Regions from separate parts of the Homo sapiens genome. Here region 2 is linked to region 1. The links come from fine-mapping of genetic effects on gene expression. A gene starts in region 1. The other region holds a variant in brackets. All regions are shown on one strand. Distances are from middle to middle. Region 1 holds the start of LINC02656 (long intergenic non-protein coding RNA 2656). Region 2 holds the start of LINC02649 (long intergenic non-protein coding RNA 2649).

The links.
Region 2: its variant is fine-mapped to the expression of LINC02656 in whole blood (TOPMed, PIP above 0.99).

The regions. Positions count from the first base shown.
Region 1 is chr10:6,349,135-6,351,634 of GRCh38, forward strand. LINC02656 (long intergenic non-protein coding RNA 2656) reads left to right here and starts at 1,182. Exons shown (of 1, transcript NR_148966.1): 1 at 1,182-2,500.
Region 2 is chr10:6,323,638-6,326,671 of GRCh38, forward strand. It overlaps LINC02649 (long intergenic non-protein coding RNA 2649), which reads left to right and starts at 2,907. Exons shown (of 6, transcript NR_040079.2): 1 at 2,907-3,005. It also overlaps a transcript of PFKFB3 not described here. The variant A/G (reference allele first, on the strand shown) is at 1,318.

The DNA.
Region 1 (2,500 bases):
AATAAAGTATTATCACATCTATTTATTTTTCTCATTTTCTTTTAACTTCTCTTTTGTGTATGTTCTAAAATACACATAATTTTCAGTTCATAGGGCATTTTCCCCTTGTAAGTAAATATGAATATATTTCAGAGTGAGCTCAAAGTTTTACGTTAGATTTAGGTAGGCATTTTTTTTTTTTTTTTTTAAGATGGAGTTTCACTCTGTCACCCAGGCTGGAGTGCGGTGGCTCGATCTTGGCTCACTGCAACCTCCGCCTCCTGGGTTCAAGCGATTCTCCTGCCTCAGCCTCCTGAGTAGCTGGGATTACGGGCACCCACCACCACACCCGGCTTATTTTTGAATTTTTAGTAGAGCTAGGGTTTCACCATGTTGGCCAGGCTGGTCTAGAGCCCCTGACCTCAGGTGATCCACCCACCTCGGCTTCCCAAAGTGCTGGGATTACAGGCGTGAGCCGACAAGGTAGGCAAAAGTTAAAAACAAAAAAACAAAAAAACAAAAAAAAATTTGGAATAGTCTGTAACAGAGGAGGGCTTGAAGAGAAGTGAGGTGATTTGCAGAAGCATCAGCCAGGAGGCATTCCTCCAGGAGAAAAATTTTTACTTAAAGGAGAGAGCTTAGTGATGGAGAAGGAAAAGATCTCGACAGACATTCAAGATTAGAATCATAAGTTGGCCATTGATTGGGTGTGGCTCTGGGAAGTGGAGGTGCTGTGGGCAGGGGCTGGCTTGGGCAATGAGAAAATGGTGTTGCTTATGTGCCCACTCTGTGCTGGGACTCAGCTGTGAGTGCCTCCAAATTCACCACATTTATCAAACCTCAGTGCTCTGAGACAGCATATGATGGCCTAGCAGGATGTCCATTCTTTTCCTGGAACCACCCATCCAGTTATCTCCTTGAGTCGCCTGGGTGGTGAAAAGTGGTCTCATGCACAATGGATGCGGTGTGATCCCCTTGCTATGTCACGCATGGCGTCTGCCCTCTTCCCTGGCACCTGTGCCACTCCAGGTTATGCCTGTGCTGCTGCCCATTCTACGCCCACCTGGAAAGCCTGAAACCTTCTCGTGCCTTCTACTGCAGCTGGGGAGCTTCTTCCACGTCTCATAGCCAGCTTCTCCAGAGGGAACTCCCAGAGCTGACTGTACTTTCCTACCTCAGCCTCTTCTTCCTGGGATGGTGTCAAAATATGAACAGATACAGCTTCATGCTTTCAGGAAACCACCTTCTCTTCCATCTTCTCCTTTGGCCTGCTCAGACAGCCAGACTTCTTAAACATATTTTTCCTACAGGCTCATGCAAATTAAGGGATGTGGCTGAGCATCTCCTTCAGTGCCCTCAAACAGGTCATGAATGTTGCAAAGCCCAGAATCGTGCTAACCTGGTAGAAGGCTGGTTTAGCCAGAACACACAGAGAGGACCTTCTCATGATGGTGTGGCTGAATTCCACATGTCACTAACAGTATCTTGCCCTGACCCGACTCCAAGTACTGATCCCCAAGGAAGGCATAATAGAGAGCCCATCTTGGGGAGGGATGATGACTTCATGTGCAAACAAGTCAAATTCAGGATGTGTGTTGTGGGCAGAGATGGCAATGCCCAGTCATCTGTTAGGTATACAGGTCCGCTGTACAGGAGAAAAATCAGAACAGAATTTCTATTTGTAGTGTTTCTTTTAGAGACTAGGGAATTGAAACCACAGGTGAATAAGAATGTACAAGGAACCAGGCCTTCTTGAAGAAATAGCTGAACCAGATTGGTGTCAGGAGCTGTACAAGGGGATCCAAGAATGTCTTGTCATACAAGCCGGACAGCTATTAAAGACAACTGAGGTCATGGCAAAAGGGCCCAGGCTTCTACTGGCCAACAATGAGACAATTTGAGCATCCCAAAGAATAATGACTTTAGTGGACTGAAACACATCAACATGTATACATCCATGAATTCATAATACTCAAAACGGTAAAACCAAACTCATTTGTTACCTTTGGAGGAGTCTGTCACCTCTGATTATTCTGAAAACTGGTAAATAGAAGGGGAAAATTCAAGCATTTATTCTGCTTTTCTTGTATAAACTGTACCTCACAGTTACGGAAGAGCTGATAAGGGAAATGTCTTCTTTATTGAAAAATTCAGCTGATACATTTGGAAGGAATGAGAGAATTACAGTACCACCATTAGGTGACAATGAGGGTCTGGTTTTTTATTTTTCTTTTGCTGAGTGCTGGGAACATAGTGATAACAAAAAAAGCCATAGTGTTCTGGCCCTTCTGGAGTTTTGATTCTAGCACATTAACCAAATAATCCCAGAGCAAAAATAAAATGTCAACTATGGTAAGTGTAGAGAAGGGAAAATACACAGAACTTTTAACAGCTTAGATCCGAGGAAGCTGACCAGCCTGCAAAAAGGGACAGCTTCCCTAGGGAAGTGACTTTGCAGCTGTGATGATGGATGACTAAGAGTTAACCAAGGAATGGGAGGAGGGAGGAGGAGACAGAGAAG
Region 2 (3,034 bases), 25 kb before region 1:
TGGAGAGATGAGGATTTCAGGTCAGAATTGTTCACTCCGTGCCTCTCCAATACGATGAAAAGACCATCAGTATCACTTCACACCGAAGCCAATGACTGTTATCAAAAAACCAGAAAAGAGCATGTATTGGCCGAGATGTAGAGAAATCGAAACCCATGTGCATTGCTGGTAGGAAGGTGAGATGCTGCAGCTTCTGTGGAAAATGGGATGGTGGTTCCTTAAAAATGAAACAGAGGACTACCGCGTGATTCCGCCATTCTACTTCTGGGCATATACCCCAAAGTATTGAGAGCAGGGACATGAACACCAGTGTTCATAGCAGCATTAATCACAAGAGCCAAAAGGTAGAAACAACCCAAGGCACTTGTACACCCACATTTATAGATGTGTTATTCATAATAGCCAAAAGGTGGAAACAACCCAGTGTCCATGGATAGACAAAGGGATAAACAAAATGTGGTCTGCCCATACAATGGAATATTATTCAGCTTTAACTAAGAATGAAATTCTGACACATGCTACAACATGGACGAACCTTGATGACATGACGCTGAGTGGAATAAGCTAGATACAAACGACAGACACCATATGATTCTATTTACATTAGATTCCCAGAGTAGTCAAATTCATAGAGACAGAAGGTAGTATGGTGGTTACCAGGGCCAAGCTGGGGAGTAATAGGGGGTTAATACTTACGGTGAAATTCTGTAGTGGGTATAGACTTTCAGTTTTACAACAGGAAAAGAGTTTTGGAGATGGATGGTGTTGATGGTTGCACAACAAAGTTAATGTGTTTTGTTTTGTTTTGAGACTGTGTCTTGCTCTGTCGCTCAGGCTGGAGTGCAGTGGCGTGATCTCGGCTCACTGCAACCTCTGCCTCCCGGGTTTGGGTGGTTTGCCTGCCTCAGCCTCCTGAGTAGCTGGGATTACAGGCACCCGCCACCACGACCAGCTAATACTTTTTGTATTTTTAGTGGACACGGGGTTTTGCCATGTTGGCCAGGCTGGTCTCGAACTCCCGACCTCAAATGATCCACCCACCTCGGCCTCCAGAAGTGTTAGGGTTACAGGCATGAGCCACTGCGCCCAGCTGTTAATGTGTATTTAATGCCTCTGAACTATAGACTTAAAAATGGTTAAATGCCAAATTTTATGTTATATATATTTTACCACAATTTAAAGGAAAAAAAAAAAGAAGAGAGCATTGGAAGTAGAGCAGTGGATCTTAACTTAGGGCTCACAACTTCTTCGAGTTTTGTTTATAAAGCTATTACCTCTTCCCATAAATACATACATAGGTATATACAGATGCATACA[A/G]GTGTTGGCATATAATTTTTTTAAATTGAAACAGGATCTCCCTCTGACACCCAGGCTGGAGTGCAGTGGTGCAATCTTGACTCACTATAGCCTTCGCCTCCCAGGCTCAGGTGATTCTCCCACCTCAGCCTCCCGAGTAGCTGGGGTTACAGGCGCCGGCCACCACAACTGCTAATTTTTTGTATTTTTAGTAAAGACGGGATTTTGCTATGTTGCCCAGGCTGGTCTCAAACTCCTGGACCCAAGCAATCTGTCTCCCTTGGCCTCCCAAAGTGCTGAGATTACAGGTGTGAACCACTGCGCCCAGCCTGGCATACAATTTTTAAAAATAAAATGTAAGCACTCAAACTTTCAAAGTTAATAACATGTGCTTATTGAAAATGAAGAGCACGTGGAAGACAGAACTCAGAAGTCACCTGTAATCACAAGCAGATTACATGTGACCTTGCTCTTCTAAGTCCTTGTGTGTGTATACACACATAATTGAATGCATATTGTTATGTTGTTGAGATCACACAATATGTATCATATTTTCACACACAATGAATATTTATCAATTTAAAGTCCCAAAGCCAAGAGTATTTTGATAACCAAGAATACACTACACCATTTCAATCAGGAAAAAAAATGTAATTTTGCCTTTCATGGAGACAAAAATTTCCTGAAAGACAAAAATGGCAACAGTCCTCTGAATAAAGATGTTGGCAGAGTTACAATTAAAATACTGTGTTCCGTTAATGCTCAATTTAAAATAGGGTATAAAGCAATGGGATATAATCCTTCTAAGAGAATGATCAGAGCTGTCCTAGTAAAATGTTAGCAAGAAGGTATGTGTCCACTGAGTTATTTAGCAGTGTATTCTTATAGTAACCCCCAAAGAGATACACACGTACATCAATGGTTATCATCAAGATGGAAATAGCAATGTGTCTGTATAGTTCCTTCCTCATGCTCCTTCTGCCGCTCTGTTGCTGACCCAATTAATGAGTCCTGGGGTGCACTGCTCAGAGGTGGCTTCATAATACCACGTTCAAGAGGCTTCTTTTGTGTTAATTATAATAAAAACATTTACAAATGGGCCAATTCACTAGCTCTACCTTTTATCATACATTGTCATCTCAAGACATCTGAAAAACCAACGATGTTGTGAAATAAAGAATGAACATGGTCTACCTTTGCAAGGACATGGGTGGAGCTAGAAGCCCTTATGCTCAGCAAACTAACGCCTGCAGAAAACCAAACACTGCATGTTCTCACTCATAAGTGGGAGCTGAAAAATGAGAACCCGTGGACACAGGGAGGGGAACATCACACACTGGGGTCTGTCAGGGGAGTGTGGGTGGTGGTGGTGGTAAAGCATTAGGGAAAAGACCTAATGTATGCTGGGTTTAATACCTACGTGACGGGTTGATAGGAGCAGCAAACCACCATGGCACACGTTTACCTATGTAGCAAACCTGCACATCCTGCACATGTACCCCAGAACTTAAAATAAAAATAGAAAAGAATGAACGTGGTCTATAATAAACACAAGCACTTACTAAAAACTGCACATTTGGAACTGTGCTGATAACCCCAAATTGTCTTCTAGATATGGAGTTACCAGTAAGGAGCTCCACCGTGACTCTCCTCCCTGCTCCGTTGCCCCGACGAGGAAGTGTGAAAACGTTTCTGGCTCCATCCAAGAGGTGGGTTGACAGAGGTCGCTCCCAGAAGA